Linked DNA regions of Homo sapiens. Each later gene encodes a partner of the first gene's protein in a complex. Each region holds a gene or a part of one and is shown on either strand. Other genes may lie near its edges. The genes, in order: PTPN11 and GAB1.

Region 1 (11,894 bases):
GCGTTCGGTTAGCCCCGTCCGGAAGGGGGCGCCCCGGCCGGGCTTCGGGCTCCCGCCCCGGGTCGGGGTTGGGGGCCGGTTCCCTCCTCGTCCCCTCGCCCTCCAGGGGCCGGGGGCCGGCCCCACCGCGCCCCCACCCCTCGGGTCCCCATTCATTTCCTGCCTCCCCGAGTTCCGGCTGCGGCAGCCCCGGGGATGCCCGTCAGGCCCGGGGCAGGTAGAGCCGCCGAGGGAACCACGGGTGCCAGCGGCCAGGCTCAGCGCCGCATTCCTGACCCATTGCCTCATGAGAATTGCCTCATGGTGATTCCGAAATAACCCTGCTCACTTGGGGAGGCTCCTTGGGACACGAGAGGGGAGTTGCGCGGGGCCGGGCCCCCAGTGGTCTAGTCGTTCTGGCTCACTGTGCCACTTTCGTGCATTTGGGGACTTCACGCAGGACCCCTGACCCTTTTATATGCCTCTTTGTGTCTTCTTTTCCTCCTACCCCTCACGTGCCAGAAATGGAAAAACTGACTGTATCTGCAGCCACTAGAAGTATTTCCTTCCTCTGCGATCTTCGCTTTGGGAGATGGAAAGGAAGGGAGCCGCATCTCGTTATTTAATCCTTCACTGCAACCTTAACAGTCAGGTCACTTTACTGGTACCCGTTTTATGGATGAGGAAACCGAGGCCCAGAAGCAACATGCTAGTAAATGACAAGATTTGAAACTTAGGAGGATTAGTGAGTTAATGAGATCCTTTGAAAGGTCAGGGTAATACTACTACTAATAGCTAACATTTGCTTAGTTCTGACCACAGCCCTATCAGATGGCTACTATTATCCCCATTGTAAAGATGAGTAAACCGAGTTTCAGAGGTTAAGTAAATTGCCTAACCTCACAGCTAGTAGGTGGTGGAGACAGAATCCCTACTTTTAATCACTATGTTGCTTCTATTATTTTGTAACTATTGCTAACCATTTGTAAGCCTTAATTTTGTTGTCAAACAGTAGTGTGACCTGTTGTTTTCAGATAGTGATCCTGCTATTTTGTATAGTCACTCTATATACCACTCACACTTAAGACCCATTGTCTATTCTTTTCCATGATTGTTCAATTATGGTCACTGTCTCAGACATTTAAAAAACGATTCAAGCTATTGAGGCTATTTGAATGAGATTTTCTTTTCTTTTTTTCTTTTTTTTTTTGGAGACGGAGGCTCACTCTGTTGCCCAGGCTGGAGTGCAGTGGCGCAATCTCGGCTCACCACAATCTCCGCCTCCTAGGTTCAAGCGATTCTCCTGCCTCAGCCTCCCAAGTAACTAGGACTACAGGCGCACCACTATGCCCGGCTAATTTTTGTATTTTTAGTAGAGACAGGGTTTCACTATGTTGGCCAGGCTGGTCTCAAACTCCTGACCTCGTGATCCGCCCGCCTTGGCCTCCCAAAGTGCTGGAATTACAGGCGTGAGCCACCGTACCCAGCCTGAATGAGATTTTTCAAAATATTAGGAATGTCTCCTCCAAACACACCTGGCATGTTATTCATACATGGATCTGGAATTTAAAAAGGGGAGAAAAAGAAAACTGAGAACTCGTAGGAAGTGAGTGACTTGGACAGGTCGGTTGGCAAGTGCTTACAGATCTGGGTAATATATAACTGCATTTCAACAGAACAGTGTATAGCCTCAAATGTTCTAATTCTTTAGGGAGCTTTTAAATAAACAGTTGTCTATTCTTTAATCTGTCAAATAGTCATTGAGCCTTTTGTTCCTGGTGTCTGCTCTTCCAGACAAGTAAGGATCTGCTGCTTTAGGAGACATCAGACGGGGCTGGGGGTTGGGAAAAGGTCTGGGTAGTAATAGACCCTACATTGTCCAGTTTGTTCATTTAGAAGCATAGAAGTGTGGGCATAGTCAAAGTAGCAAGTGGTAAAGATGACAGTTTGAAATGGAGTAATTCCTTCTCCCCTCCAGCCCTGGTATTATGCACCACCCAAAAAGCCGGGTTATGAACATAATACACATAATTTTGAATGATTCATTATTTTTTGGATTATAAGCCTGTTTTATTTGTTAACCAGCCTTAATGAGGTATAAATGACATGCAATTAATTGCATATATTTAAATGTACAATTTGATCAGTTTTGACATACATATACACTTGGGAAACCACCACCATAGTCAAGATAATGAACACATCTATCACCCCTGGTAATTTTGCCTTATGTTCTTTATAATCCTTCCTTTGTTCTTAGGCAGCCACTATTCTGCTTTCTGTCACTATGTATTAGTTTGCATTTCCTAGAATTTTATTTTTAAAAATTTTAAAATTGTTTGAATAGAGATGGGGTCTCACTGTGTTGCCCAGGGCAGTCTCAAACTCCTGGGTTCAAGTGATCCTCTCACCTTGGCCTCCTGAAGTGTTGGGATTATAGGCATGAGACACCCTGCCCAGCCCTAGAATTTTATTATTATTGTTATTATTGTGTTTTTTTGAGATAGGGTCTCACTTTGTTGCCCAGGCTGGAGTGCAGTGGTGCAATCACTGCAGCCTTGTTTTCCTAGGCTCAATCCATCCCCCCTCCTCAGCTTTCCGGTTACTGGGGCTACAGGTGTGCACCACCACACCCGGCTAATTTTTGTATTTTTTTATAGAGACAGGGTTTTGCCATGTTGGCCAGGCTGGTCTCAAACTCCCGGGCTCAAGCGATCTTCCTGCCTCGGCCTCCCAAAGTGCTGGGATTACAGGCATGAGCTATTGCGTCCCGCCTTCAAATTACTTTAACCTAGTATTAATTCATTCAACAGGAAGTTAATGAGCCAGGCAGGATAAAGCAGTAAGATAGGAAAATATTGCTATTTTCATGGCTGAGAGAGAGCAGACAAACACATGACTAAATAGGGCAATTTCAGGTAGTAATAAATTCTAGGAGGGAAAAAATCCCACAGAAATGTGAGGATGGGAGAATGCAGTTAGTTTTGATAGGTGGTTTAGAGAAGGTGATCGTGTGAGCTGACACCTGAATGACAATTAGTAGTCTGAATTTTGTTTTGCTTAATTATCAAAATAACTCCTCTTGGGTTCGGCTTTTATATGCATCCAGTAATTAAAATGTAAGTATATTCAATGTACTGATATCTCTCAGCATCATAGGTAGGAAAACTAAGGCATTCAGCAATTAAGTGACTCCTCCCTTGATCATGTAGCAGTGATAGTACTGGATTTAGATTTTGAGGTTGCTTCTCTGCCCTTTTCTGCCTTTGTGAAACCAACAAAGCTGCCTGTATTTTCCAACTCTTCCTTCAGCATGTGGTACCTCCTTTACATCTGTTTTTGTTGCTCTGAAATCCATACGCGACGATGAGCTGAGAGGGGCAGAAAATTGAGCTTGTTCTGAGACTGGAGGCTTTTGGTTTATCTCTTGCAGGTCAAGTACATTTTGTCCTGGGCTCTCCCTGGTGGCCACGTTTGTTTATCTCCTGCGGGAGTAAATAAACTTGCCTTGCTGAAAAATAACAGTTCTGTGTCTTTGCAGTGGAAACTGGGATGTCTTTATTAACGTTAGGTCCTGATGTAAGGCCAAGTTTTTGGTTAGAGTTGCTCAAGTGCAGAGGCCACTGCTAAGATGACTTACCCCTCGTGTCCATGGTCAATGTGGAGACTGTTATGAGTGGCACATGATGCTGGAAAAGCAGAGCCAACTCATGTTTGTAATTGTCCTAGCAGGCCGTGGTGTACTTTGTTAGGCAGCCACAGAACAATAGAGAAACTCAGCTTATTCCCCTTCCCTCTGGGAAACACAGACAGTACTTGCCATCCAACGCCAATGTTTTTAAGGAAGAAAGAGGCAAAAAGTGATGTTGGCAAGGTCTCTGGGAGTTGTGGACCCCAACCAAGGATTGGAGACCCTGAAATGGATTCAGATGCCCTAAAATGCAGCCCAGTTCATTACTATGAATTTTGGAGGACTTTGTGCCTTGAGCAAATGTGTATATGTGACGCTCTTTGACAACACTGAAATAGGAAAAATACTATCCATGTTCGCGAGGAGCACTGAATTTAGAGAGGGAGACAGACTTTTATGCCAGCATCAAATGAATTTGATAAAGCTAGTACCAAAATGAAATTTGAAATTTTTTTTTTTTGAAATAGAGTCTTACTCAGTCACCCAGGCTGGAGTGCAGTGATACAATATTGGCTCACTGCAACCTCCACCTCTTGGGTTCAAACAATTCTTGTGCCTCAGTCTCCTGAGTAGCTGGGATTACAGGTGCGTGCCACCATGTCTGGCTAATTTTTATATTTTTAGTAGGGATGGGGTTTCACCATGTTGGCCAGGCCGGTCTTGAACTCCTGGCCTCAAGTGATCTGCCCACCTTGGCCTTCCAAAGTGCTGGGATTATAGGCATGAGCTACCACACAAGCCTGAAATTTGAAATGTATTGGTATAGAATATACTGTTTAGAATGTATGTGTATATATGTATATTTGTATACTCATATAAACACAAATACACATTGTATGTGTTTCTGTAATATGTATATCTGTCTACACATACATGTATATACACACATACAATGTCTTTTTTTTTTTTTTTTTTTTTTGAGACAGGGTCTTACCCTGTTGCCCAGGCTGGAGACTGCAGTGGCATAATCTTGGCTCACTGCAGCCTCGACCTCCTGGGCTCAAGTGATCCTCCCATCTCAGCCTCCTGAGTAGCTGGGACTGACTACAGGCACGTGGCATCAAACTTGTCCAATTTTTCTATTTTTTTGTAGAGTTAGGGTCTTGCTCTGTTGCCCAGGCTGGTCTCAAATTCCTGGGCTCAAGCTGTCTGCCTGCCTCGGCCTTCCAAAGTACTAGGATTACAGATGTGAACCACTGTACCTGGCCTTTACAATGTCTATTTTAAAGATAATGGTTCAAGTTTTTATCATCCCACTGGCCTACTCTAATGAAACATCTATCCATTCATTGAAGAATTATTTATGGTGGGATAACTCTGTGCCAGGTACCGTGCTAGGCATTGAGTATTCCAGGTTTTAGGAAACAGCACATGCAAAAGTGCTGAAGTGGGAGAAGATCTCGGAGTGATTGAAGGCTAGGAGAGAGCAAGTGTGGGAGCTGTGAGGCTGGGAAGGTGGGAGGTAGGTGGGAGCAGACCACATAGGGATTCTTAATGTCTTTAGTGTCATGTGGACCATGGAGAGGAGTGTAGATTGTATTTTTAGAGCAATGCAAAATCATAGAAGGATGTGATCGGGGGAGTGGCATGAGCTGATCTATTTAAAAATATTTCTCTGGCTGCTGTGAAGGAAGGATTGTAGGAGGCAGGAGTAGATTCAGGGAGATGAGACAAGTGATGAGAGAGGCTTTGAACTTGGGTAAAAGTAGTTTGTGGAAAGTCTTTTTTGGAGGTAGTTTTTGTTTATTGCCTTGTCATCAAAGCAGAGATGCTGACCAATGAAACTCCATGAGAAAATAGTGATTTATAAAGACATATCTATGCACTGCCATTAAAAAGCTGCTTGGAAAAAAAGGATAAAAAGCTGCTTTAACAACTTTTTTTTTTGAGATGGGGTCTTACTCTGTCACCCAGGCTCACGACCTCAGCTCACTGCAACCTCTGCCTCCCAGGCTCAAGCATTCTCCCACCTCAGCCTCCCGAGTGGCTGGGACTGCAGGCACACGCCACCATGTCAGGCTAATTGTGTGTGTGTGTGTGTGTGTGTATGTGTGTGTGTGTGTGTGTGTGTGTGTGCTGGGACTGCAGGCACACACCACCATGTCAGGCTAATTGTGTGTGTGTGTGTGTGTGTGTGTGTGTGTGTGTGTGTGTGTGTGTGTGTGTATGTAGAGATGGGGTTTTGCCATGTTGCCCAGGCTGGTCTCAAAATGTTGCCCAGGCTGGTCTCAAACTCCTGAGCTCAGGTGATCCACCCGCCTCGGCCTCCAAAGTGCTGGAGATTACAGACGTGAGCCACTGTGCCCACCTAACAACTTTAAAAAAATTTTGACATTTAGTAGGATATTTATTGCATTATTGTTGAGATGGCAAAATATTGGAGACAACTGAAATGTTCATCAGTGGGGGGGGCTAGTTAAATGAAATACAGTGTAGCATGCATTAGAACACTTTTCAAGAATTTAACTTTTTTTGTAGCCTTTTACTTATAATGCTTGTCCCTATTGATGCCTTTTTTTTCAGCATGACTTACTCTTTTACTATAGGATATTAAAATTTAATTAGATTAGAAATGAGGAATATTCTTGTAATCTGTAGAAAGTAACAAACTATAAACTTATTCCCCAAGAACAAATATAATAATTTTTCTGGAGTAGCAGGTAAGAAAGATATAAATTTATATGTATACAAGAAACTGAAATTAGACTTTATACATTTAAAGGTTACAAGTGCAGTTTTATTACATGAATGTATTATCCAGCATTGAAGTCTGGGCTTTTAGTGTAACCAGCACCTGAATAACATACATTGTACCCATTAAGTAATTTCTCATCCCTCAAACCCCTCCCACCCTGAAATTAGACTTTGGATCCCTAGTTTAAATTCCACCCCTCTCTTTTTTTGAGACAAGGTCTCACTCTGTCACCCAGGCTGGAGGGCAATGTTGCAATGATAGCTTACTGTAGCCTCAACCTCCTGGGCTCAAGGGATACACCCTCCTCAGCCTCCTGAGTAGCTGGAACTGCAGGCGTGCACCACCACATTCAGCTAATTTTTTGATTTTTTTATAGAGATGAGGTCGGAACTCCTGGGCTCAAGCGATTCTCCCCAAGTGCTGGGGTTACACACATGGGCCACTGCCCCCAGCCTAAACCTCCTTTCTCAGTATAGCAGCCTTGAGATGAAGTTCCTGAAATTACTGGCCAGCTTGACTGTTTCCCCACATCACTGGAGGAGGGGGATGCATAGATAAAACAAAATATTCAGCATCATTGTATTTTCTTTTTGTTTCATCAGCATCTTTTTTTAAAACTCACTTGACATAAGTCCCTAGCCTCAAAGAGTAAAGCCTTTGCAGAATCTGCATTCAGATTTCGGGTGTGATTTCCTGACAGATAGTTCAGGTTTGTAAACTCTTTTTTTTTTCTTTGAGACAGAGTTTCACTCTTGTAGCGCAGGCTGGAGTGCAGTGGCACCATCTTGCCTCACTGCAACTTCTGCCCCCTTGATTCACGCGATTCTCCTGCCTCAGCCTCCTGAGTAGCTGGGATTACAGGCATGCGCCACCACACCTGGGTAATTTTTGTATTTTTAGTAGAGATGGGGTTTCACCATGTTGGCCAGGCTGGTTTTGAACTCCTGACTTCAGGTGATCTACCTGCCTCAGCCTCCCAAAGTGATGGGATTACAGGTGTGAGCCACCGCAGCCGGCCAAAACTTTGTTTTTTTTCCTCTTTTTGTTGCTGAGAAATGTAAACTCTTACAGACACAAATTATGTCTCCCATTTTTTAAAACCCACTCAACACAGGGGTCATGTGTAATAGGCCCTGGAGCTTATTTTAGACATTGATTTGAGGCTCTTTTCCCCAAGTGCTGGTTTGTGTGTGTGTGTATGTGTGTGTAAGTCTTTCTATGAGATGAGTGGTACCTACCTGGGCTGTGTGATCTTTTTTATTTTATTTATTTTATTTTTGTAGATACGAGGTCTCACTATGTTGCTCAGGCTGGTCTTGAACTCTGGGGCTCAACCTATCCTCCCTCCTTGGCCTCCTAGAGTGCTGAGATTACAGGTGTGAGCCACTGCACCTGGCCAGCGATCCTTAATAAATATAGATAATGGCCGGGCGTGGTGGCTCACACCTATAATACCAGTACTTTGAGGGGCCGAGGCTGGCAGGTCACCTGAGCTGAGGAGTTTGAGACCAGCCTGGGTAACGTGGGTGAAACCCTGTCTCTACAGAAAATAGAAAAATTAGCCAGGTGTGGTGGTGCATGCCTGTAGTCACAGCTACTTGGGAGGTTGAGACAGGAGAATTGCTTGAACCTGGAAGGTGGAGGTTGCAGTGAGCCGAGATCGTGTCTTTGAACTCCAGCCTGGGTGACAGAGTGAGACCTTGTCTCAAAAAAAAATATAGATATAGGCTGGGCGTGGTGGCTCACACCTGTAATCCCAGCACTTTGGGAGGCCGAGGCGGGTGGATCAGGAGGTCAGGAGATCGAGACCATCCTAGCTAACATGGTGAAACCCTGTCTCTACTAAAAATACAAACAATTAGCCAGGCCTGGTGGTGGGTGCCTGTAGTCCCAGCTACTCGGGAGGCTGAGGCAGGAGAATGGCGTGAACCCGGGAGGTGGAGGTTGCAGTGAGCCGAGACTGTGCCACTGCCCTCCAGCCTGGGCGACAGAGCGAGACTCTGTCTCAAAAAAAAAAAATCTATATATCTATATATCTATATCTATATAGATATAGATATAGATAATGCCAGATGATGGCTGGTTAGAAGGGATTGTCAGGGGCTGGCAGGTTTTGCAGGTGTTAGAATGAGCAAGATGAGGAGAAGGATGCTTACTTCCCTCTCCTTGTAACTCTCTACCCCCTCCCCTCAGTGTTTTTTTATTTTTATTTTTATTTATTTATTTTTTTTGAGACAAGGTCTTGCTCTGTCACCCACACTGGATTGCAGTGATGCAATCATAGCTCATTGAAGCCCAAACTCCTGGGCTCAAGTGATCCTCTTGCCTCAGCCTCCCAAGTAACTGGGACCACAGGTGCGTACAACTATGCCCAGTTAAGTTTTTCATTTTTTATACAGACGGGGTCTTGCTATGCTGTCCAGGCTGGACTTGCACTTCTGGCTTCAAGTGATTCTCTTGCCTCAGTTTCCCAAAGTGCTGGCATTATGGGCATAAGCCACTGTGCCTAGCCCATCAGTGTCTTTTTATCCTTTACTCCTATCAAAATTCATTCACTCAGCAGCCATTGATCAAGTGCCTACTATATACATGTTGAGGACTGGAAATTTATTTGTCTCTTCTCATCTTATCTGGACCCTCTGTGTTAATTGTAATTAACTGTAATCATTCTGTATTAATTGTAATAAACTTGTTGATAAACTCAAATGAGGCCATACCGTTTTGCCACTTCCCCTCCTTCCAGGTTATATGGATGTACTTACATTGCAGGTTTCATTTGTTGGTTCAGTTTTTAAACTAAGCCCTATTGTGTCAAATTATGCTAGGTGTGAGATGGGGAGTTCAAGCTGTGTGTTGTCTTTTTTTTTTTTTTTTTTTTTGCCTCACTTACTAATATACAAGCGCTTATAACCTTTGAGGCTGGCCCTATACATTAAGATTTTTATTAATTCCACTGTTCTTTATCTTCTCTTACTAAGTTCTCAGGGTCGAATGAACTCTAACTGCTCCTTGCTAGTGATAAGCAAGTTGCAAATTACAGAATTGTCAGTGATTGAATACACGTATTAAACCTGTAACTGGGAAGCATTTTTGGTAATTATGAATACTTTTGGAAAAAAAAAAGCTATGGAAGGAAAGTTTAAAATCTACGAAAGCTCAAGTAGATGGTCATGGAATAGCTATTTCAATTTCTAACTATATATTACTTATTTATTTATTTATTTTTGAGACGGAGTTTAGCTCTTGTTGCCCAGGCTGGAGTGTAATGGCGTGATCTCAGCTCACTGCAACCTCCACCTCCCGGGTTCAAGCTATTCTCCTGCCTCAGCCTCCCGAGTAGCTGGGATTATAGACATGTGCCACCACGCCAGGCTAATTTTGTATTTTTAGTAGAGACGGGGTTTCTCCACATTGGTCAGGCTGGTCTCGAACTCCCAACCTCAGCTGATCCGCCTGCCTCGGCCTCCCAAAGTGCTGGGATTACAGGCGTGAGCCACCGCGTCCGGCCTCTTAACTATTGTTTGAAATAATGTAGAGACAGCTCCAGAGCCATGAAGAAGTGTATGAAGAAGCAGTGTTAGCTTAAATGACATACATGTCACAATTGCCTATGTGAAACTATCATAATTATGCATGAGAAGTATCTATCCTGCATAACCTCCACCAATAATAATAATGTTAATAATAGTGAAAACTAATGTTTATTAAGTCCTTACTGTCTCCAGCCTCTGTGCTAAATACTGGTTACTAAGTTTCCCTGAAAATACTATTCTCATCTGTTTGTTCTTAATAACAGGATAGCATAATTGTAAGTTGTAAATGAAATAATACAGTTTATGTAATAAAAGGGTAAAAGAGAAGACCACCTACCTTATCTTCTGTTGCTGATCTGGATGGATGTAGGTGGTGTTTACCTAGTTTCACCTTTGGCAGTTGAAACTACTTTTTTTTTTTTTTTTTTTTTTTTTAAGAGACAGGGTGGGCCAGGCGCAGTGGCTCACGCCTGTAATCCCCGCACTTTGGGAGGCTGAGGCGGACAGATCACTTGAGGTCAGAAGTTCGAGACCAGCCTGGCCAACATGGTGAAACCCTGTCTCTACTAAAAATACAGAAAAATTAACTGGGTGTGGTGGTACACACCTGTAATTCCAGCTACGTGGGAGGCTGAAGCAGGAGAATCGCTTGAACCCGGGAGTGGAGGTTGCAGTGAGCTGAGATTGTGCCACTGCACTCCAGCCTGGGTGACAGAGCAGGACTCCGTCTCAAAAAAAAAAACAACAACAAAAAAAGAAATTTTTAGAAATATGAGATGACAGCAAGAATGAGGGTATTAAAAAGAAATTTTTAGAACTAAATAGCAGAATGTAATGGTGAAAAGTTTGATTTCTCAAGTCTGCTTTGCACACAGGCATGTGGCAAACATTCAGTAAGTATAGCTGTAATTTTAACCAGCTGTAATGTATAATAGCCAACATATCACATTTTTCTTTTTTCTTTTTTGAGACAGAGTCTTGCTCTGTTGCCCAGGCTGGAGTGCAGTGGCACCATCTCGGCTCACTGCAACCTCTGCCTCCTGAGTTCAAGTGATTCTTGTGCCTCAGCCTCTCAAGTAGCTGGGATTACAGGTGTGTGCCACCACACTCGGCTATTTTTTGCATTTTTAGTAGAGATGGGGCTGGTCTTGAACTCCCAGCCTCAGGTGATCTGCCTGCCTCAGCCTCCCAAAGTGCTGAGATTACAGGTGTGAGCCACAGCGCCTGGCCATATATTGCTTTTTTCTTATTATCAGAGCCAGTTCATAATTGTGGAAAAATAGTGTTTGTAACAATGTAAGTATGGATAAATCATCTTTTTAATTTTGTGATTCATATAGGTTTGTTGTTGTTGTTGTTGTTTTGTTTTTATCTTGAGACAGAGTCTTGGTCTGTCACCCAGGCTGGAGTGTAATGGCACAACCATGGCTCACTGCAGCCTCAGATGCCTGGGTTCAAGCAATCCTCCCGTCTCAGCCTCTAGAGTAGATGGGACCACAGGTGTGGGCCACCATGCCTGGGTAATTACAAAACTTTTTTTTTTTTTTCTAGAGATGAGGTCTCACTATGTTGCCCAGGCTGGTCTCAAACCTTTGACCTCGCTTCAGCCTTTAGAGTAGCTATGACTATAGGCATGTGCCATCACCCAGCTAATTAAAATTTTTTTTCTTTTTTTTTTTGGTGGAGATGCGGTCTTACTTTGTTACCCAGACTGCAAGTTAGTTTCAGATATCAACATTTGGTGTTTCCAAATGCACGGGGAGGCTTTGGAGCAAGTTTTTGGCTCATATGCATAGGTGTCCTAGACATTCACTTTGCAAATTCTTATTAAAATGACTACAGTAGCATACAGATAGGGAAAAATATCCTTGTCAGTACCACCGATTGGGTGAGAAGAGACTGTATATTAAAAACAATGACCATCTTTTTGCCACATAAATTGCTGGTGGGGCCAGTTTGAAGAGGGCTTTGTCAGCTGCCTTCTGCCTCTTCCTCT
Region 2 (12,667 bases), on another chromosome or scaffold:
AATGCTCCTGTGGGTGGGTAATGGCAAAACCAAGTAGAATCCGGGTCCTGACACTCAGTCTGAGTTTCCTTCCACTATAGCAAAACATCCCCACTAAAAGCATCAGTGGGTGCATCAAATTACATTTTAATACAAAATTCTTCAAAAGTAAAGTAGTAGCCCATCTACTACAATGCTCCTTCTGGCTGTCAGTCTCTGTAAGAAAATTAGGACTGCTGAGTACCTAACACATGTTTTGAATCTATCACCTCTGGCTGGGCACGGTGGCTCACACCTGTAATCCCAGCACTTTGGGAGGCTGAGGCGGGCGGATCACCTGAGGTCAGGAGTTCGAGACCAGCCTGGCCAACATGGCAAAACCCCATCTCTACTAAAAATACAAAAAAAAAATTTGCCGGGCGTGGTGGCAGGAGCCTGTAATCCCAGCTACTTGGGAGGTTGAGGCAGGAGAATCAGTTAAATCCGGGAGATGGAGGTTGCAGTGAGCCATGAGCCAAGATCATGCCATTGTACTCCAGCCTGGACAAGAGCGAAACTCCATCTCAAAAAAAAAAAAAAAAAAAAAAAAAAAGAATCTATCACCTCTGAAACTTTCTCAGTCTGCAAATTGTCAATAGCTTATCTACATATTTTTATGTTAAGTCTAAAATATGGGATTTTACTTACTCTCAAAAAACGCTGTGTGTTTTACTCCTTACATTTTTAAGCAGGTTATGGCAAAATACACTGAAATAACCAGTCACTTGTCAAACAGATTATCCAACTATAACTCTTGCCACTTTTTGTTCCAAGATGATCTCTTAAAAAAATAATTTTAAAGAGCCAGCAGAATTCTCAAACTACCCCCTCCAAACTAATGCACCTTCCTAACAGTAATTCTGAATCTCAAAAGGTAGCAATCAGATTTGGAGATTCAGCAAGTTGCACGTGGAGAGTTCTACACTTATCATTCAGCCCAGGCACAACAAATGAACTATCATTAACCATCATAAAGGCTTAATGTAATTGCAAGTTGATGATCTCTGTTAACAGAAAAAACATTCTTGCTACACTTGAAAAGGTAAAAACATTGGGAGTCTGAATTATGTTTACTAACATGAGGATGGCAAGAAAAAATTTCCTTCAATAGAATAATTATGCTTATTCAGTCACTGTAAGCAGAAACATCAGAATCCATTGATTGCTAGTGGTAATTGTCAAAAAAGGATAGGAAGAGCTTCTAGACATGACAGTCCTCTTTGTTGTAGTGACACTATTGAGCAGGGGTTTCATGCTTAGCACAGGTCCTGGGTTGTCCTTGAACCAAGGAGATGCTGACACTTGGCCTGCCCACGCCCCTCTCCTCCATGTCAGATGTCAGGTGCCCACCCAGTAGGAGAGGCTATTTCTGTTTCTAGGCCCATTTCCAGAACCAGGGGTGTGTTTTTGAAGTCCAGACAAGAGTTGTCCTGTTAATTGACAGCTGCAGAGCAGACAGAGAGCCCACGCTGGGTACAGATTACCTACCTAAGAACTGGCTGGGGCCTTGCTACCAGGCTGGCTGTCAGCTAACAGGCCACCTTGCTCTGGCCTCAGAAGCAGGTTCTCCTGCTGAGATTGTGCACCTGCCCAATGCTGACAGCTGGGCTATGGAGGAGCCCAAACTTAGTGTTTGGGCTTCAGGCAAGGAAGCTCCTCCTCCAGAGCGATGGTGGTAGCCAGCTGTCTTGAAACAATACTTTATTTACAGACTTGCATCTTATTTCAGCTAAAATTTCAGGTTCTGATGAAAATTTCACCATCATTTCTTTAAATAATTCTTTAAAAATCTGAGCACCATTGTTGAGTGCATACTACCAAGACTTTACTTGTTTTCTGTAATCCTAGTGACAGTAATCTGTTTATGATTCCATCAGGTCCTTAACAAAGTAAAAAAGCAGCTGTTTAATATATAACACAGCATGAAAACAGCAACACCACAGTAGCAACCCTGAAAAGAAGCATTAAAATTTTCACCTACATTTTAAGTAGATTTTAAAAACTTCCAGGAGAATGAAACACATACAAGAAAGAACCTTTTGCGAATATAGAAAAAATTAAAAAGAGAAGGAAAAGCTGGGGAATCTGCTGACTACTCTTGACTTTCATTTTTTTGTGTGTCATTCTTTAGAAAATTCAAGAAAAGCTTACACATCAGACTAACACACTAGCGTGTACAAAAAACAATCCTGCTTGAGTTGACTATGAAACAGTAAACATAAAACGGAGCTGTAAATGGAATACATTGGGGGCCATATATGAGATGGCTTTAAAGCTAAAACTAAAACAATTTAAGGCCAGGCGTGGTGGCTCATGCCTGTAATCCCAGGACTTTGGGAGGCTGAGGTGGGTGGATCACCTGAGGTCAGGAGTTTGAGACCAGCCTGGCGAAATCCCATCTCTACTGAAAATACAAAAATTAGCTGGGTGTGGAGGGGGATGCCTATAATCCCAGCTACTGGGGAGGCTGAGGCAGAAGAACTGCTTGTATCTGGGAGGCAGAGGTTGCAGTGAGCCGAGATAGTGCCACTGCACTCCAGTCTGGGTGACAGAGCAAGACTCCATCTCAAAAAAAAATTAATTAAAAAAAACTAAAACAATTTTTTTGTCACTTAAAAGCCCTTATGGATCATCTTAATCAGTGTTCGGACTACCCTATAAATGCTGTAAACAGTGAGACAACTGTCAAAGTCCCATGGGCCAAATATTTCCAAACAGAATCATGATGCTCAAACTCCCTGAAGTCTCATTTAATAATTATAGTATCAAGCATCCAAGATATCTTTTCATAGCAAATCCATTCATTACAAATCATTATCCACAAACATTTTGCCTACTGGGTGGCCAACAATGTTTCCTTTATCCAGAAAAATAAACATTCTACATAAAAAAAACAAGCATAGGAAATGCACGTATACATGTCTATATCTTTGATGGTCAAAGCTACTTTAGCAAAAACCATCTAAACTGGACAGCAAAGCCAAAAGATCAATAATCTGGGAATGTCAAAATCTTCTGGGCCACCAACCTGACAGGTAAAATACAAGCCTTATTTAACCTGACAGTTAAATAAGCCTTATTTAACTCATTACACTCCATGCTGGTTTCCTCTATTCTGACAGCCGCCCTGTCTACTGTCTTCCAGGACTATCTCCATCTACTTTATTCGTGGGTAAAGAAAACACCAGTGCTACACCAGGCAAAGAAAATCCTAGTTTCTCCCAAGCTATTAGGCACATTCATCCTCCTGTGGAAAACACAATGTAGGCAGCCCACTGTCTCTCTCAAATGTTCCCATAGTTTCAGTCTACATTGAACTTGTTCCTCAGAACAGCCAAAAAATACCCATACCACTCAACTTAGACACACAGTCATATACCACTTTGCACTGTTGGCTTTTTCACATATACTTGTCTCGTGGTCCCAAAGACTCAAAGAGCTACTTAAAGGCAAAGACTAGGTCTTACATTTCTTTAGCACTGTGCACCTGATCCATAGTCCACCTCATTCTTGTATTCTCAACTAATATTCAGAGTCAGGAAAAGTTATAATCTGAAAGGACCTTTATTTTGTTGTTGCTATTTTTGAGACGGAGTCTCACCCTGTCATCCAGGCTGCAGTGCAATGGCACAAACTCTGCTCACTGCAACCTCCACCTCCCAGGTTCAAGCATTTCTCCTGCCTCAGCCTCCCCAGCAGCTGGGATTACAGGCGTACACCACCACGCCCGGCTATTTTTTGTATTTTTAGTAGAGACAGAGTTTCGCCATGTTGGCCAGGCTGGTCTCCTGACCTCAGGTGATCCACTGGCCTCGGCCTCCCAAAGTGCTGGGATTACAGGTGTGAGCCTGAAGGACCTTTAGAGATAACCTAGTCTAAGCTCCACATTTGAAATGAACTAGGTGAGAGTCGTTAACCTTTTACAGTCCAATCAATCAGGCAGATCTGGGTTCAAATGCAGGACTGTTTTCTGTAAAATAGAGATGACACCTACCTCAGAAAACAGTTGTAATGATCAAATTATACTTTCCTTTTTGTTTTTCTTGTTAAGACATAATCTTTTTGGCTGATTTCTTTCCTGGTTAATAGTTCAATTGAATTCTAAGCCCAAGAGGCAGGGCTTTTTTCCTTTTTCCTACTGTATTTTGTGACCTTATGGTTGGTGTCTAATACAGTGCCTGGCGTCTTTTGAGTGAGCCATGAACTAACCATGTGAAAGAATGAATTAAACCTATATTATCACTTTCACGTTCAGCAAATATGTTATTCTTTAATTCCTCCAAGAATCTGTTTTTCCTAAATTGGGCCTTCTCAAAACAAATATATTTATCTCCCTACCCCTTTCTCCCTTCCTTCTCTGTCACATACACACACACACACACACCCCTACCTTTCTCTTTAGAACAGCTGGAAAAAAAAACACTGCCTCGTTCATATTTTTGGAATAAAGTTAGCATTTTTACTAGGATATTCAGGAAAACTGATAGATGGACAGGATTTGGAGGCATTACACATCTCTGGAGAGCTTTCTTATGATTTGTGGCATCGAGTCTTTCAATAAAATTACTTGTCTATAATAAATTCTGGCAGAAAGTAAATCAGAAATTCACTGGTGAGTTGTCAGTGAAGTTAAATACTTCACTCTGTGTACTTCACTCTGTTCTATACAAGCAAACAGTGACTAACAGGATTAACCTGAGCTCTAATACTGGGTGTAGATATTCCTCAACGACAAACGGGTTCCCTTCGTACAGGCATTAAATTTATATTATATTTAAGGGGGCATAAATTTTGCTTTTGCAAACACATTTTACTAGAAAAATATTTGATCCAGATGTCAGCACAAAAGTGTCATTTCTTTCCTTTGCAAGGGAGCAGCAACAAAACAACCAATGGGGAGGAAGAATAAGATCCCAGACCTCTGAAGAGGACACAGGTTTCCACTAAAGCAAGGTTGATACTTTCAAGGAATATTTTTCCTAACAGCTAAAACGGTTTAACACATAGCATCTTGTATCAATTACACAAACACCATTAAAGCCACTCTGGTTCCCTGGGAAAGGACCGCAACTGAAATCCCTTCTGGCTTCAGCTGTCCCCTCCTGCCGAGTTTGACAGCACATCCAAGGCGCCCAAACACCAGCCACTAGGCTCCCCCCCAGCGCCCTCCTCTCGCAGCAAACCGCCAAGGCTCCCGGGCCAAACTCCAAAGTCCCTCAATTCAAAACCGCGAAAATGTGAACCCTGCTAAGCAAACGGCAGGGCGCGTAATAACTTTTCTTTCTTTCCCTTTTGCGCGCGTTCGATATGCTTGTCTCTACTACCAACTCCTCAGCTCCACAGCCCGCTTCCCGCAACCCATCTCGAGGGGCGGAGGAGAGGGAGCGCCCACCAAAGAAAGGGCTAGTGAGCCCTAAAACCTCGGCAGTTTTCCCGGTGCGGGAGCTTTAGCACACATCAGCCCAATAATCAGATGCAGGAATAAAGCAGGAAGAAGGCTCCTCTCTCCATCGCACCCCATCCTTCCTAAGGAAGAAAAAAAGCATGCAGCAGGAGTTTAGCTGGACGTCTAGGTCCTTTTATGGGGCGAACAGGCCCGCAAAGCAGGCTGTCTGGAACCTGGAGGAAGAAAGTTGTCCGGCCAAGTGGATGCCTGGGCGTGAGGGAGTGCAAGGCACCCTGTCCCGAGCCCGCCAGGGGTAGGGGCCAAGGGGAAAGAGACCGGCATTCGTTTAAGAACCAGCCCCGCGCGCGGCCAGCTGCAGCCGCCGGCGAGCCGACTGGGGAGGGGTGTGGACGCCGAGGCCCGCGGAGTGGTGCCCGCAGCTCTACTTACATAACGCTTCAACTTTTTCTCCGGGGGGGACTTGCGGAGCCATCCGGAGCAGACCACTTCACCACCGCTCATGGTGCGCGCGTCTCGGGCTCCGGGCCGGGCAGCTGAGGGGCGGCGGGCGCGCTCCCGACACAGCCGACGCCTGCCGAGCGCGCAGTGGCGAGAACCTAGCTCTCCTGGTCGCGCACCCCGGACGGACTGGGCGGACAGACTCCACGGTGCGCGGGTTCCACGAGTTCGAGTCTCTCCTCTGCAGGCCCACGAACCTGAACAGAACGCGAGCCGGGGCCGCGGGCGCGCCGGCCTCCTTTCAGTGCGCCCGCCTCGCCTCCAGACGTGCCGTCTCGCCAGCTGCCTCAGCAGCGCTCGGACTCAGCGGGACTCTGCCCCGACTCGGTGCCGGAGCTTCTGTCCTTTGCGCTCCGCCCCCTAGGGACAAGACCTCCCCAGAGCGCTTTCCGAAACAGACACAGCGCTGCTCACACACACACACACACACACACACACACACAATGCCCCGCGCGGTGCCCGCTCGCCCGCCCACCCGCCCTCGGTTTCGATGCGCCCGGAGCGATCCTCCTTCCCTCTCCTCGGGGGAGGGTGGGTCACTTCGCGGCGCTCGGTGAACGCCGAGGAAAGGGGAAGCCGCGAGCCGCCTACGGGCAGCGGGCGCGGGGCTGGTCCCGGGTCACAGAGGGAGCCGCAGGGTTGGCAGCGAAGCGCGGGGCGTTTCTGAGCGGCGGGCGCAGGGAGGTCGCAGGTCAAGCCGGAGGGTGGGTCCGCTCTCGCGGCCGCCGAAGAGGGCGGGGAGCAGCAGAGGAACGAGGCGCTTGGCGGCTTGGCTCCTGGGAGGGATCCCGCTGTCCCGTCCCCTCGCGCTCCTCCCCCGCCGCCTCCCCCACCCCGGGGCTCGCGGCAGGTCCTGAGCGGCTCGGCCCCAGATCCCGATCCCTCCCTCCCTCTCCCGGCCGCCGGGCTCCTTCTTCCTCCCTCTCCTCCTCCCCTTCCCACGTTCAGGCCCGGCTCCGGTTTCTGCCCAGACTTTCTCTGAAACTCCGCCGGAGTGCTTCCAGCCAAAACAACAAGGGCCGGGGGAGGAGACGGACGAAGGGAGGGAGCAAGGGAGGGAGGGAGCGCGAGTCCGAGAGGCACCCTGGGATCTGTAGTTCGGGAAGCAGGAGCAGGGTCCTCCGCCGTCCGGCGGCCCCCAATCGGCTCCTCGCCCGGGAAGACCGCAGAGGCCTCGGCTAGGGCAGAGGCACCGGGGCTTGGGCGCGGGGAAGACTGAGGGACATTCGAATGTTCAGTCCGGGGCTTGCCATCTTGACTCAGCCCGGTGCCAGCTCGGAGCTTGTGCTGTGCTCGAGATCAGGAGTTTCGAGGGTTTTCTTTACTTGAGAGCCTGAAAGGCAAAACCGCGGGGAGACCACCATCCTGCCGGTCCCCGCCGCGCGAGATTAAAGGACAGACCAAGAGGGCGCGGGAGCTACCAGCTTGGAGGGGAGGACAGATGGGGACCCAGGGCTGGCCAGGGCTGGTCTCTGGAGCTGTTCTGCCAGAGTGATGGGGGCGCTTGGCGAGGCCAAGGATTTGGTTGGGTCCTATCTCTGAGACATTTTGAAGTCTCACACCCCTTCCATTTGTTGCCTATTCCACTTAACTTTGTATTTGTTTGAAATCTACTGTTCGGATGCTGGACTAGAAGAGGGACACTTGGCCGGGCGCGGTGGCTCACGCCTGTAATCCCAGCACTTTGGGAGGCCGAGGCGGGCGGATCAACTGAGGTCGGGAGTTCAAGACCAGCCTGACCAACATGGAGAAACCCAATCTCTACTAAAAATACAAAAATTAGCCGGGCGTAGTGGCGCGCGCCTATAATCCCAGCTACTCGGGAGGCTGAGACAGGAAAATAGCTTGAACCCGGGAGGCGGAGATTGCGGTGAGCCGAGATCGCGACACTGCGCTCCAGCCTGGGCAACAAGAGCAAAACTCCGTCAAAAAAAAAAAAAAAAAAAAAGAGAGAGAGAGAGAAAGAAGGAAGGAAGGAAATTTACTGGGTACCCTAGTTCTATTTGCCTACTTCCTTGTGTGTTTCACAATTATTATACTGGTCCTGAGTTTAACATGATTCTGTAATAAACATCTTCTCCAATTTATTTGTGAAAAAGCCCCAAAGCCAATTTCAGCAGATAATATAATCAGATAAAAGTGCTAAAAATATGACGACATAAATGAGCATTTCTGGAAAGACATAACTTCAGTCATTTTCTTATTAACACAACATTCATATTCTGAAGCTCCTCTGAGTTTGAAAATGTTAGATGATTGTAATAAGAAATTAGGTGCTGGAGTGGTGACAAGACAAAGATCCCTGCATATATGGAGGTAGTGGCATAGGGTAGTAAGCAAATAAAGAGTCAACAAAACTACAGATTGAGACTCAGTCTCAAAAAAGAAAAATCTGAAAAAGCCTGGTTCCCACTGGGGTTTAGAGACCGTCATCTTTTGGCAGGCACTTAACAGTATCACAAGGGCGGAACTTCTTGCAGATCTGGATGCACTTTTCAGGTCATCAACTGAGTAGTCGTGACCTTGGGTAAATTACACAATGTCTCTGAGTCTCAGTTTCCCGATATGTGAAATGGGAATTGCAACACCGATTTTGCAGAAGTTTAATGAGAAATAGAAATGGTAGTGTTGGCCAGGTGCGGTGGCTCACGCCTGTAATCCTAGCACTTTGGGAGGCCTAGGTGGGTGGATTGCCTGAGCTCAGGAGTTTGAGACCAGACTGGGCAACTCAGTGAAAACCCGTCTCTACTAAAATACAAAAAATTAGCCGTGGCGGCGTGCGCCTGTAGTCCCAGCTACTCGGGAGGCTGAGGCAGGAGAATCGCTTGACCCGGGAGGCGGAGGTTGCAGCGAGCCGAGATCGCGCTACTGCACTTCAGCTTGGGCGACAAAGCGAGATTGTGTCTCTAAAAAAAAAAAAAGAAAAGAAAAGAAAAGAAAAGAAAAGAAAAGAAAAGAAAAGAAAAGAAATGGTAGTGTTGGTCGGTTAGTCGGGCGCGATGGCTCGCGCTTGTATTCCCAGCACTGTGGGAGGTCTAGGTGAGCAGGTCACTTGAGGCCAGGAGTTTGAGACCACCCTGGCCAACGTGGTGAAACCCAGTCTCTACTAAAAACACAAAAATTAGCCGGGTGTGGTGGCACGCGCCTGTAGTCCCAGCTACTCGGGAGGCTGAGGCAGGAGAATCGCTTGAACCCAGGAGGTGGAGGTTGCAGTGAGCCGAGATCGTGCCACTGCACTTCAACTTGGGAGACAGAGCGAGACTGTCTCTGAAAAATAAATAAATAAATAAAAAGGAAAATGGTAGTGTTGGTTGGGCGTGATGGCTTGCACTTGTAATCCCAGCACTTTGGGAGGTCTAGATGAGCAGGTCACCTGAGGCCAGGAGGTCGCGACCATCCTGGCCAACGTGGTGAAAACCCAGTCTCTTCTAAAAACACAAAAATTAGCTGGGTGTGGTGGCGCGTGCCTGTAGTCCCAGCTACTCAGGAGGCTGAGGCACAAGAATCACTTGGACCCGGGACAGGGAGGTTTCAGAGAGCTGACATAGGGCCACTGCACTCCAGCCTGGGTGACTGAGTGAGAGTCTGTCTCGAAAAAAAGGAAAAAAGAAATGGTAGTTTTAAATATCAGGCACATATTAGATATTGTAGGATTTTTGCTGTTTGTTGCTGTATTTCTTAATGTTCTTTCTGAAACATAAACAAGCGTAATTTTTATGGCAGCTAATAAACCAAAGCACTTCTTTTTAAGTATGTGAATATAAATCATGCCACAAATCTTCCAAATGAAAATAAACCATCAAATTTGTTTTCCTCTTCTCCCATAGGCAGCATGTAGCTACATTGAGCCAAAAGTATAATTAGCATTAGTAAGACTAGTATTGTTGAGTAGTTAACTATTGGCTTTAGCAAATTTACCATTTCCTACACTCTTGTTATAAAGTTCTTTGTAAATGGAAAATTGTAATATATCTTGTATTATTTAGCTTTGGGAATTTCCACAAATTTTTTTCTTTATTTCAAATAAGGCATTCAGTTATCTCATTCCTATGTAAAAAATCTTTAAGTGTTTTTCCTATCTTCTACTGAGTTGTTTTAGGCTTGTATTTCTAGAAATTAAATCAGGGTTGAAGAGAAATTGAAGATAGATATGTCTCCATGTATATATTTTAGAAAGGAAATTTGCCTTATTTTTATATGTCATGTTTAGATTATTTGTTAAATCATATTTTATATCTTTATGCCTTAAAAGGCACGCTGGAAAAAGTTATTATATGTTAGTATCTTAAATTTTATTCATACAACGAATATTTATGGGATGCCTATTATATGCCAGTCCCTGAGGACCCAGGATACAGTAGGGGAAAGCCAGACCTGTTCCCACACTCCTCTTTCCTAGAGAAAAGCTTTTGCAGATAATTAACCCCATCATTTTGGCAATACAGTTGATAAATGCTATGGAAGAAAATATAGTGTTGTTTGGGCATATAACAGAGGATGTACCCCCCAGGAGTAGGGCGGTAGGTTGGGAAGGACTTCCCTGAGGAAAAGACTTTTTTTTTTTTTTGAGACGCAGTCTCACTCTATCTCTCAGCCTGGAGTGCAGTGGCACAATCTTGGCTCACTGCAACTTCCGCCTCCTGGGTTCAAGCTATTCTCCTGTCTCAGCCTCCCAAGTAGCTAGGATTACAGGCGTGCACCACCACGCCCGGCTAATTTTTGTATTTTTAGTAGAGGCGGGGTTTCACTGTATTGGTCAGGCTGGTCTTGAACTTCTGACCTCAGGTGATCCACCTGCCTTGGCCTCCCAAAGTGCTGGGATTACAGGTGAGAGCCACAGCGCCCGCCAGGAAATTCAGGCTTTAAATTGAGATCCTCAGGATAAGAAGAAGTTGGCCTGGTGGACATAGTAAGGGAGAGTATTCCAGACAAAAGAGAAGGTGCAGGTGTACAGGTTTTCAGGCTGGAAGGAGCATTTAATGAACTGAATGAAGGCAGCAGTGGGGTGAATGATGGAGACATTGGCACTGGCTGAGGTACAGAGGCAGGCAAGGGACAGATTGTGCAGGTCCTTGGAGATCTTCAGATTTAGACATTTTCTTGAAGCAAATGACCATTTCATCTCCTATGACATTCAAATCTATCCAAATCAGGCCGGGCGAGGTGGCTCACACCTGTAATCCCAGCACTTTGGGAGGCCGAGGCTGGCAGATCACCTGAGGTCAGGAGTTCGAGACCAGCCGGACCAACATGCAGAAACCCGGTCTCTACTAAAAATACAAAATTAGCCGGGCATGGTAGCGCATGTCTGTAATCCCAGCTACTCCAGAGGCTGAGGCTGGAGAATCACTCGAACTCGGAAGGCAGAGGTTGCGGTGAGGCGATATCGCACGCCATTGCACTCCAACCTGGGCAACAAGACGAAACTGTCTCAAAAAAAAAATAAAAAAAAGAAAAGAAAAAAGAAAAATCTATCCAAATCACCTCAAGCAATCATCTTTGTGCATTTTGTTATTCCCTTCCAGCATCCCACTTTAGCTATACATCTTTCAACTTGATTTTTCAATATCTCCCTATGTAATTATTCCTTCTTCTCAACAGCTTTTCTAGTCTATTAAGACTTGTGCTTTCCCGTGATCTATCAGACATTTCCTTTCTTCACTCCCTTCTCCTTATCCAGCTTAAATTCTGTGGTCCACATTTTCAGTAAACATTCCTATCTCACAAAACCCCAACTCTGGACAAACCTGACTGTCCTTTCTTTCTTTTTTTTTTTTTTTTCCTTTTTTGAGATGGGATATCACTCTGTCACCTAGGCTGGAGTGTGGTGGTGCTATCTCAGCTCGCTGCAACCTCTGCCTCCTGGGTTCAAGTGATTCTCCCACCTCAGCCCACCCAGTAGCTGGGACTACAGCTACACACCACCATGCCCAGCTAATTTTTGTATTTTTTTGACAGAGACAGGGTTTTGCCATGTTGGCCAGGCTGGTCTCAAACTCCTGGCCTCGAGTGATTCACTTGCCTTGGCCTCCCAAAGTGCTGGGATTACGGGCCTAAGCCACCATGCCCAGCTTGACTGTACTTTCTTCTGCACACAACCAGCCAAGTGCTGTTGGAGCAAGTCGCAGAACAGGATGAGTGACATCACTGTAAATTCATGTTCAGTGACCTCAGATAGATACAAAATTATTCTGCAGGGGCAAATCTTCATGTCCTGGGACCAGAAGTTTATATAGTTTGGGGAGTCTTTTTAACGAAAATAATGCAATTACAAATACGAAATTTGGATGAATATGTATTTAGAATGAGGAAATAAATCACCAACAAATTCCCGAAGCCCTGGAGATGCAGATGTCTTTCTTCTAAGATTTATAGGTAATTTACCAGAATCCTTACATATTCTTCCTGAGTACAGCTTGACACCCCCTCTCCACTAGGACACTCCACTTCTCCTAGAAGCTCCCCACTCTCACAAGAGGCCTGTGCAATGACAGGCCCTGAGCTGAAGCTTCATTAGCTTTATGGATGTCTCTGCCACCCAGTGACCTAGACCATTCAAGCTGCTGTAACAAAATACCTTAGACTGGGTAATAGATAAACAATAGCCATTTATTGCTTATAATTCTGGATGCTGGTAAGTCCTCCATCAAGGTACCAGCAGATCCAGTGTTTGGTGAGGGCCTGTTCCTCATAGATCGTGCCTTCTTGCTGTGTCCTCACATGGCAAGAGACACAAACAGGCTG

The links.
Region 2: the proteins of PTPN11 (region 1) and GAB1 are in contact, whole or in part, in a crystal structure (PDB 4QSY), measured with the Homo sapiens proteins. Residues at the interface, in NP_002825.3 of Homo sapiens: Gly13, Val14, Glu17, Arg32, Pro33, Ser34, Lys35, Ser36, Thr42, Arg47, Thr52, His53, Ile54, Lys55, Leu65, Gly67, Gly68, Tyr81, Gln87, Leu88, Lys89, Glu90, Lys91, Ile96; in NP_002030.2 of Homo sapiens: Lys623, Val625, Glu626, Tyr627, Leu628, Asp629, Leu630, Asp631, Leu632, Asp633.

Annotation. Positions count from the first base shown.
Region 1 is NC_000012.12:112,419,174-112,431,067, forward strand, and holds part of PTPN11 (tyrosine-protein phosphatase non-receptor type 11), read left to right. Parts: intron 1-11,894. UniProt on the Homo sapiens protein: Acts downstream of various receptor and cytoplasmic protein tyrosine kinases to participate in the signal transduction from the cell surface to the nucleus. Positively regulates MAPK signal transduction pathway. Dephosphorylates GAB1, ARHGAP35 and EGFR.
Region 2 is NC_000004.12:143,330,448-143,343,114, reverse strand, and holds the start of GAB1 (GRB2-associated-binding protein 1), read right to left. Parts: upstream 6,240-12,667; 5' UTR 5,927-6,239; coding exon 5,855-5,926; intron 1-5,854. UniProt on the Homo sapiens protein: Adapter protein that plays a role in intracellular signaling cascades triggered by activated receptor-type kinases. Plays a role in FGFR1 signaling. Probably involved in signaling by the epidermal growth factor receptor (EGFR) and the insulin receptor (INSR).